Linked DNA regions of Homo sapiens: region 1 is linked to region 2. The links come from fine-mapping of genetic effects on gene expression. A gene starts in region 2. The other region holds a variant in brackets. All regions are shown on one strand. Distances are from middle to middle.

The links. PIP is the estimated chance that this variant, and not a neighbour inherited with it, causes the effect.
Region 1: its variant is the best candidate, but not a certain one, in a credible set for the expression of HOXA-AS2 in whole blood (TOPMed, PIP 0.76).

Annotation. Positions count from the first base shown.
Region 1 is chr7:27,015,250-27,020,625 of GRCh38, forward strand. No RefSeq gene overlaps it. Among named protein-coding and RNA genes, the nearest start is that of HOXA1, 78 kb to the right of the region's middle. The variant T/G (reference allele first, on the strand shown) is at 3,056.
Region 2 is chr7:27,119,956-27,125,331 of GRCh38, forward strand. HOXA-AS2 (HOXA cluster antisense RNA 2) reads left to right here and starts at 1,964. Exons shown (of 4, transcript NR_122069.1): 1 at 1,964-2,071; 2 at 2,512-2,711; 3 at 3,505-3,683. HOXA3 (homeobox A3) reads right to left here. Exons shown (of 6, transcript NM_153631.3): 4 at 2,604-2,687. RefSeq lists enhancers at 1,741-2,940, 2,519-3,316, 4,116-4,913.

The DNA of each region.
Region 1 (5,376 bases), 100 kb before region 2:
GCCACAGAGTTTTTCTTTTCTTTTTTTTTTTTTTTTGAAATGGAGTCTCACTCTGTCACCCAGGCTGGAATGCAGTGGCACGATCTCAGCTCACTGCAACCTCCGCCTCCCAGGTTCAAGAGATTCTCCTGCCTCAGCCTCCCGAGTAGCTGGGATTACAGCTGCACACCACCAGGCCTGGCTAATTTTTGTATTTTTAGTAGAGCCGGGGTTTCGCCATGTTGGCCAGGCTGGTCTCAAACTCCTGACCTCAAGTGATCCGCCCACCTCAGCCTCCCAAAGTGCTGGGATTATAGGCATGAGCCACCACACCCAGCCTATTAGTTTTCTTTTTGCTTGTCTGCTTATTTATGCAAACACTGTTAAATTTTTATCAAGCTAAAATAAATGGGTTATAAGATAGTATTTGTAAACCTCATTTTAACCTCAAACCAAAAAACATACAATGGATACACAAAATATAAAAAGTAAGAGTCCAAATCATATCACCAGAGAAAATCACCTTCACTAAAAGAGGAAGGAAAGAAAGAAGGAAGAGAAGACCACAAAACAACCAGACTACAAATAGCAAAATGATAGCAGTAAGTCCTTACTTATTATAATAACATTGAATGTAAATGGACTAAACTGTCTTATGAAAATACGTACACTGGCTAGATGAAAAAACAAGACCCATCGATCTGTTGCCTACAAAAAAACAAAACAACAGCAACAAAAAACACTTCACCTGTAAAAACACACATAGACTGAAAATAAAGGGATGGAAAAAGATATTCCATGACAATGGAAACTAAAAAAGAACAGGAGTTGCTACACTTATATCAGACAAAATAGATTTTAAGACCAAAACTCTAAGAAGAGACAAAGAAAGCCACTATACAATGAGAAAGGAGTCAACTCAGCAAAATAATATAACAATTTTAAATATATATGCACCCAACAGTGAAGCACCCAGATATATAAAGAAAATATTACTAGTGGTAAAGAGAGAGATACACCCCAACACAATAATAGCTAGAGACTTCAACGCCCCACTTTCAGCATTGATAGATCTTCCAGACAAAAAATCAACAGACACCATTAGTCTTACTCTGCACTAGAGACCAAGTGGATCTAATAGATATTTACAGAACACTTCATCCAACAGCTGTAGAATATGCATTCGTTTCCTCAGCACATGGATCATTCTCAAGGATAGAGTATATGTTAGGTCACAAAACAAGTCTGAAAACATTCAAAAATTGAAATAATATCAAGCATCTTCTCTGACCACAGTGGAATATAACTAGAAATTAATAACAAGAGGAATTTTGGAAACTATACAAATACATGGAAATTAAACAAAGTGCTCCTGAATGACCAGTGGGTCAATGAAGACATTTTAAAAAATTGAAAAATTTCTTCAAACAAATGATAATGGAAAAACAAAATACTAAAACCTCTGGGATACAGCAAAAGCAGTACTGAGAGGGAAGTTTATAGCTGTAAGTGCCCACATCAAAAAAGGGTAAAAACCTCAAATAAACAATCTAGTGATGCATCTTAAAGGAATAGAAAAGCAAGAGCAAGCCAAACCCAAAATTAGTAGAAGAAAAGAAATACTAAGGACCAGAACAGAAATAAATGAAATTGAGATGAAGAAAAAAATACAAAAGATCAATAAAACAAAAAGTTGGTTTTTTAAAAAGTTAAACAAAATTGACAAACCTCTAGCCAAACTAAAAGACAGAAAATCCAAATAAATAAAATCAGAAATGAAAAAGGAGACATTTACAACTGATACTGCAGAAATTCAAAGTATCATCAGTGGTTACTACAAGCAACTATATGACAATAAATTGGAAAATCTAGAAGAAATGGACAAATGTCTATATACATAAAACCAACCAAGACTGAATCAGAAAGAAATTCAAAACCTAAACAGACCAAGAACAAGTAATGAGATCGAAGCCATAATAAAAAGTCTTCCAGTAAAGAAAAGCCCAGGACCTGATGGCTTTACTGCTGAATTCTACCAAACATTTAAAGAAGAACTAATACCAATCCTTCTCGAATTATTCCAAAAAATAGAAGAAAAAGTAATACTTCCAAATTCATTCTACAAGGCCAATATTACCCTGATACCAAAACCAGACAAAGACACATCAAAAAAAGAAAAACCACTGATGAATATTGATGCAAAAATCCTCAAGAAAATACTAGCAAACCGAATTCAACAATACGTTAGAAAGATCATTCATCATGGCTAAGTGGAATTTATCCCTGGATGCAAGAATGGTTCAACACATGCAAATCAATCAATGTGATACATCTTATCAACAGAATGAAGGATAAAAACCACAGGATTATTTCAATTGATCCTGAAAAAGCATTTGATAAAGTTCAACGTCCTGTTATGATAAAATCCCTCAAAAACCTGGGGATAGAAGGAACATATCTCAACATAATAAAAGCTACATATGACAGACCCACGGTATCATACTGAATGGGGAAAAACTGAAAGCCTTTCCTCTAAGATCTGGAATATGGCAAGGATGCCCACTGTCACCACTGTTATTTAACATAGTACTGGAAATCCTAACTAGAGCAATCAGACAAGAGAAAGCTATAAAGGGCACCCAAATTAGAAAGGAAGAAGTCAAATTATCCTTGTTTGCAGATGATATAATCTTATAATTGGAAAAACCTACTAAAGACTCCACAAGAAAACTATTAGAACTGAGAAACAAATTCAGTAAATTTGCAGGATACAAAATCAACACACAAAAATCAGTAGCATTTCTATATGCCATAGGTGAACAATATGAAAAAGAAATTTAAAAAGTAATCCCACTTATACACATAAAATTAAATACCCGGAAATTTACTTGCCAAAGAAGTGAAAGATCTCTATAATGAAAACTACAAAATACTGAAAGAAATTGAAGGGGACACCAAAAAATGGAAAAATATTCCATGTTCATGGATTGGAAGAACCAATATTGTTACAATGTCCATACCACCCAAAGCAATCTACAGATTCAATGCAATCCCTATCAAAATACTAATGATATCC[T/G]TCCCCAGAATACAAAAAAATTCTAAAATTTATATGGAACCACAAAAGTCCCAGAATAACCAAAGCTATCCTAAGCAAAAGGAACAAAACTGGAGGAATTACATTACCTGACTTTGAATTATACTACAGAGCTATAGTAACCAAAACAGCATGGTACTGGCACAAAAAAAGACAATAGCTCTATGGAACAGAATAGAGAACCCAGAAACAGATCCACACGCCTAGAGTGAAGTCATGTTTGACAAAAGTACCAAGAGCATACACTGGGGAAAAGACAGTCTCTTCAATAGATGGCACTGGGAAAACTGGATATCCATATGCAGAAGAGTGAAACTAGACCCCTATCTCTCACCATATAAAAAAATCAAATAAAAAGAGTGGATTAAAAGACTTAAATCTGGCTGGGCAAGGTGGCTCACACCTATAATCCCAGCACTTTGGGAGGCCAAGGCAGGTGGGTCACTGGAGGTCAGGAGTTCAAGACCAGCCTGACCAACATGATGAAACTCTGTCTCTACTAAAAATCCAAAAAAATTAGCTAGGCATGGTGGTGGGCACCTGTAGTCCCAGCTACTTGGGAGGCTGAGGCAGGAGAATTGCTTGAACCCAGGAGGCAGAGGTTGCGGTGAGCCAAGATTGTGCCACTGCACTCCAGCCTGGGTGACAGAGTGAGTCTCTGTCTCAAAAAAAAAAAAAAAAAAAAAAAAAAAAAACTTAAATCTAAGACCTGAAACTATGAAACTGCTTCAAGTCAAAATTGGAGAAAATCTCTAGGGCATTGGTCTGGGCAAAAATTTCTTGAGTCCCACAAGTACAGGCAACCAAAACAAACATGGACAAATGAGATAACATCAAGTTAAAAAGCTTCTGCACAGCAAAGAATACAATCAACAAAATGAAGAGACAACCCACAGAATGGGAGAAAATCTTTGCAAAATACTCCTCTGATAGGGGATTAACAACCAGAATATATAAGGAACTCATACAACTCTATAGGAAAAAAAATCTAACAACCCAATCAAAAAATGGGCAAAACATTTGAACAGACATATCTCAAAAGAAGACATACAAATGGCAAAGAAGCATATGAAATGGTGCTCAACATTACTGATCATCAGAGAAATGCAAATCAAAACTACAATGAGATACCATCTCACCCCTGTTAAAATGGCTTATATACAAAAGACAGGCAATAACAAATGTTTGTGAGGATGTGGATAAAAGGGAACCCTTGTATTCTGTTGGTAGGAATGTAAATTAGTACAATCACTAGGGAGAATTTGGAGGTTCCTCAAAAAACTGATCATTGAGCTACCATAGGATCCAGCAATTCCACTGCTGGGTATATCCCCCAAAGAAAGGAAATCATTATATCAAAGAGATATTTCCACTCCTATGTTTGCTGCAGCACTGTTTACAATAGCTAGGATTTGGAAGCAACCTAAGTGTCCATCAACAGATGAATGGATAAAGAAAATGTGGTACTTGGCCGGGAACAGTGGCTCACACCTGTAATCCCAGCACTTTGGGAGGCTGAGGCGGGTGGATCACGAGGTCAGGAATTCGAGACCAGCCTGGTCAACATGGTGAAACCCCATCTCTACTAAAAATACAAAAATTAGTAGCCGGGCATGGTGGCTCATGCTTGTAATCCCAGCTACTCGGGAGGCTGAGACAGGAGAATCGCTTGAACCCAGGAGGGAGAGGTTGTGGTGAGCTGAGATCACACCATTGCACTGCAGCCTGGGCAACAAATGTGAAACTCTGTCTCAAAAAAAAAGAAAGAAAAAAGAAAATGTGATACTTATACACAATGAAGTACTATTCAGCCATAAAGAAGGATGATAACCAGTCATTTGCAACATGGATGGAACTGGAGATCATTATGTTAAGGAAAACAAGCCAGGCACAGAAAGACAAACATCGTATGTTCTCACTTACTTGTGGGATCTAAACATCAAAACAATTGAACTCATGGACACAGAGAGTAGAAAAATAGTTGCCAGAGGCTGGGAAAGATAGTGGGGGAATCGGGGGAGATGAGGATGGTTAATGAGTGCCAAAAAAATGGAACAAATGAATAAGACCTACTATTTGATAGGACAACAGGGTGACTATAGTCTATAATAACTTAAATGTATATTTTAAAATAACGTATGAAGTGTATCGTATTGTTTGTAACTCAAATAACAAATGCTTGAAGGGATGGATTTTTTAAAAAAGAATCTCATCCACTGGGGAAAAAATTTCACTAAATTAAGTAAGTATGAAATACATTTAAATAAGTATTTAAAGGGTGTTTTTATAAGTCTGTAGCATTT
Region 2 (5,376 bases):
AAGTGAAAACCTGCCTCTCTCAGGTTTGGGGGATAGAGGACAGGAGTAGAAGCTGGTTTCCAAAAAGCGTTCTCCTGACCCCCAAGAACTCACTCCTCTCATTCTTACTGCTGCCTGCCTCATACCCCTCACCAATCATTCACACTGAGCTCTCCAGATACCCTAGAAAGGGACCTGGAGGTATTGCTGGCAAATTCCTCCCTACCCCCAAGTTTCTGAAGAGGCATCAACTCAAAGATGAGAAGGGGCCCCCTTCAAAGCTCTTGGAACAGTCGAGCAAATGAAAACTCTTAAAGCCATAAATTGTCCGGGTGCGGTGGCTCATGCCTGTAATCCCAGCACTTTGGGAGGCCGAGGTGGGTGGATCATGAGGTCAGCAGTTCGAGACCAGCCTGAACAACATGGTGCAACCCCGTCTGTACTAAAAATACAAAAATTAGCCAGGCATGGTGGTGCATGCCTGTAATCCCAGCTAGTCGGGAGGCTGAGGTGGGAAAATCACTTGAAACCAGAAGGCAGAGGTTGCAGTGAGCTGAGATCGTACCACTGCACTCCAGCCTGGGACAGAGCGCGACTCTGTCAAAAAAAAAAAAAAAAAAAAGCCATAAATCAATGAAATAAGTCATTGGTACTGCTTCAGAGAAATGCCTTAACGCCAGCAAAGCTCAGAGGCATCTCAGCTCCAGCCTGGGGCCTCCAAACGGCTGCTAACATCCAGTTAATGCTCCAACTGCTGTTTAACAATTAACATTAATGACTTGGGGTGGGATGGGTGATTTGGTGGGATGAGAAGGGAAAAATCTGAAAAGTCAAAAGACATTTAACTTTTGAGGTTAAAAAACAGCTTCTCTATGAGAGATCTTGGCCTGGGCAGCCTATCTGGGGAACCAGCAGCTGACAGTCCTCCTTTGCCACTCTGCAATCCAGTTTCCTGGAGCAAAGCTACGGGCCTTTTAAAAACCCAGCTGCCAGTCCCTCTTCACTCACTTCACCGGCCTCCAACTTGGCCTGCGCTGGGACTGATACTGTGGTCCTGGTCACCAGAGCCAAAATAGGGGGAAAGCTGGCTTGGAAAAAGCAGGCAACCAAGGGTACACACCGTTAGCCAATATTTGCAAGGCTGTTGGCAGATTAGATATATCTGTACTCAAACACTGCAATCTGATTTCTCTGTCAAAAGTACACTTAACATTTTTGTCCCATTACTTAAATCTAGTGGATTTTCTACTCAGCATCAGGTAAGGCTCTCTTAGCCCACTGTGTGCGTGTGTGTGTGTGTGTGTGTGTGTGTGTGTGTGTGTGTGTGTATGATAGATTCTTATTTAACATGAGATATTTCCTGTGGGTGCAAGTGCAGTAGAGAAATGGGCCAAGTTCTCTGGACACGTGTGGATGTGTATATTGTGTTATACACAAGGCCCCAAATTCCTGCAACTATTTATACATGCAATTGTTCTGTTGTTTGCTGAGATGGAAATCATATACACAGAGTTACAAATTCCTGAAATGTTCCATCTATATTTGATATAAACAGACATACAGTAGCTGAGAAAGTAACACAGCTTGACTATTGCTCTGTTTACCTTCTATTGGAAAAAATAATTGTATCCAGAACACCATATCAGCCTTATAGCACGACTGAATATCATGTTGCAATTAATTAACAACCTGATATCTATTTGGGAGCAAATTTAAGGGAAGACTGGAGGCCTAGGAAATAGAATACAAAATCTCAAAACTTTTTAAAAAGAAGTAATTCCTGAAAGAACAAAGCAAACTCATTCCTTCATACCATGCTTCTGAAAGCTATTCCAGCAGCCCCTCCCCCAAACAGGCATGTAATTTATGGATCTTTTACAAGGTAATAAACCACAGTAATTACCTCCCTGCATCCCAAACTAAGAGGACAAATTAAGTCAGAACTTGAAAATAATTTAAAAGAGTTTTCCCTTGTTTCAAATAGGAAAAGGAAACGCCAAGACATAGAAAACCACGCTTTTCCCGTAGGAAGAACCGATGATGAGCCCTGATGAAAGAAGGAAGAAGACCCGCTGTCTGCGAAGGCCTAAAGGTTAGAAATACAGCAATTTTTCTCATGCCGAAGGAAAGGCAAAATGGTCTAAGAAACTGCAAGAGTGTGATACAAGTTTTCCTCAACAGCGAGCTGGGACTGGCGACAATTTCTTAACTCACAGCCTCCGCAGTCGCCTTAGTCGACAAAGAGAGCAGCCCACGCAGCGGCCGCCGCGCCCGTGCCCGTGGCCTTTACTTGCTTTTGCCCTGAAGTTCAGTGTAGTGGTTTGTTTGGGGCTTGCAGGAAGAAACAAACACACTCCCTCTGACTCTCCACAACCCATCTTTGCCTTCTGCAACCGCTTCTCCTGCCCATCGCTGGTTTTGGGGTAGGCTCTTTGTCTGCCTGAGGCCCCGCACTCGCAGGGCAAGAAGCTTAAAGGAATCCAACTCCAAACTCCTCCGAAGTTAAATATTGACCAGAACCTCTTTCAACAGGCCGCGGTTGCCAGGAACCGTGGAGGGCCAACTCCTCCCAACCGCCCTGGTGCAAAGTCCCACGCGGCGAAGAGTTTTGGAGCAGCGCTTACCTAGAAAGATGTTTAAATTCTGAACCAGGAATTGTCTCCAACTCCAGGCGCTCAGGGAATCGCCTTTTCCGGTGTCCAGGCGCTCTGCAGACAAATAAACAGCAGAAGGTGAATGGCGGCTGCGAGGGAAGGGAGTTGGAGGCCGGGAGTGGGAAGCGAGGCTCATGCGGGCGCCAAGGTGGCCCTGGGGGTGACGCGAACATCAGGGAGTCACCAGGGCACTCGTCCGTGTGGCGCACTCATTGCTCGAAATGTTCCAGTCTACAAATGGTCCGAAGATGGTGATTTATTTTTGTAAAATAAATACATACTCCATCTCCACACCCATACTTTCTCCTTTTTCTTTCTTTTTTTTGGCGGGGGAGTGGGGAAGGAAAGGACATGAAGCAAACAGAGGAAGCTGAGAAGGTGGAAGTGGCTTTGCTGGTGGTGTGGGCTGCTTTCAGAGAGCTCTCTCCTCAGGCACCACAACTTGGAGAATGTGAATGCTTGCTTTATTTTCCTTTCCTAACAAAAGGAAGCCTTGTCTGGGAGCATTCAATCACGGACTCTCCTGAAACCTCACTAATATGTGTTCATTTCTGTAGGCGCGAAATCAGACCCGGGTTCATTCCACTGGCCAGAGGCAGTCTTGGGAGGATTTGTGTTCTGGTTTATTCAACTCTGGGTGCGTTCCTTTTAGGTCCTAGTGGGCTGGCGGGGCTACCGCAGCACCTAGTCCCTCAGAGCAGGCCAGCTAAGGCTGCTGGAAACTGAGAGGGACGCCGGCTGGTACAATACCTGCTCAGGGGCCCTGCTCCTGCCTGGCCTTGCGCAACGGCCACAAGCCGATCTGATGCCTTGATTCTGCTCAAATCTCGTCCCTCACAGTATTTGCAACCCTCTCTTGCCCTCTAACCAGCAAATGGTCACCGAGCCGGCAGTCAGCTTTCTGGGAGTGGGAGATGATGGGGAAAGAGGAAAGAATCGTCCGCTCGCCGGACCCTGGCTTGGAGAAGTTCTGCGCTCCGCTGGGACTCTGCGGGCCCTTTGCGTCTACAGACCTATCCCTGCCCCGACTACCCCTTCACTCAGACCCAGGTAACCTCTTACCCCAGCCTGCCCCAAACCAGCCCTCCGCTGTCTGTCTGCCTTCACGCAATTCTGTAGATAGCGCTAAGAGGGGATATCAAATAGCTGAGGAGTCCCCTGACCCCTGGCTTCGGAGCCCCCTAGCACGTGGAACAAGTGGCCGCACACCGGTAGCTGCGCTCTGCCACAGTTCGACCCGTAGCCCCCACAAACCAAAGGAAAAGGACCCAGGATCCACGCTGCGCGCTGCGCCCCCTTTCTCTTGTTCAAACTTGCTTTCTGTGTCCCCAAAGGGAGTGCCCCCTGGTCTTGGGGCTCCTGGCATGACCATGAGCAAGGTGGACTCAGCCATCCTGCACTTTGCCTCTCAATTTCATTCCAGAAAGATCCGCTATGCCGCCACCCACCACTCCCCTGCGTGACACTTAGGAGTATGTAATTATTATGGTTATTATTTTTGCTGTTTCCTTATCTCCAAGTCTAATATTCATGGCTGCTGTACCCCATAAATCGTTCAGACTAATGAGTCACAGAGAGATGCTGCCCAGGTCTCTCACTTTACAATGGCTGCCGCCGCCGCCGTGGCCTCTCTCTCCGCGTTTTTGGCGCTCGCTTGCTCCCTCGCTCGCCCGGCGCGGGTGATTTATGAACGCCGGGAAAATTGAACAAAGCCGCGCGCCCGTCCTGTGGTATCTCTGCAGCCTTCCCCAGCGTGAATCAGAACATTACCAACTGTCTGCGCATCCGTCCCACTTCATCACCAAAGCCAGGATGTGACCGCAGAAAACCCAAGCCCGAACTCACGTTTCCCCGGACGCGGCGCGCTCCCTGGACTCGCAGAAACCCTGCGGAAAAGGCCCCAAGATCTGGTGAGGGCCTGCCAGCTCCGTCCTCCCTGCCGAGGGCTCTCTCCTGCCTTCCTGAAGGAGTTAAAAGCCTTTGGAGATAAATCTGAGGGTGTGTGTTTTTAAAAATCAAATGGTAAGTTGGAATCTCACTTCTGAGAGATTCATTCCTAGTGAGGCCCTGACGACTCCGATCCATTCCTGACGATCTGCATTAATTATTTAATGAGTCACGTGACCTCAAAGATTACAATTTCAATATCTCCCTTGCACAGGCGCTACACCTTTATCAGCTGCAACCAGGGTCCTTTTTTTGGCTCTGCCGGCCTCCGGGGCACATTCATCCTTGCCCTGGTCTGAGGCAAGCCACCACCATGGAAATAGCAGGGCAAGCATGACAGAATTAGTCATCCTGGGATTATGACCGTTGTGGATAGTGGGGAGTCCACTGCTCTCCGAGATGCCCTGACATCTGTCCCCTCCTGAGCCCAGTGGCCAGTCCACCTGTCTGAGCTCTATGACTAGGGTGGCTTGGTTACAAAATCTCCCCAAGCAGCTTTGATGGCCCATGAGGCAAGAACCCATCCTTCTTCTCTGGCTGTACACACCTGTGACCGTCCAGGTCAAGTGTAAGCTTAGATGCATACCTCCATTCCTGGCAGAATATCTTCCTAAGAGGAAAGATGTCTGTGCTCTTATTGCTCTCTAGAGTGAGACTAAAGGTTGCATTCCACCCTCGTACTCATTAACTTAAGGAACGGTGGAGGGAGGATCATTCGGCTGCCTCAGTTTTCTCATCTGTAAATTAAGAAGATTGAACCAAAATGGCCTCCAGGTCTCCTTCACTTTGGACAGTC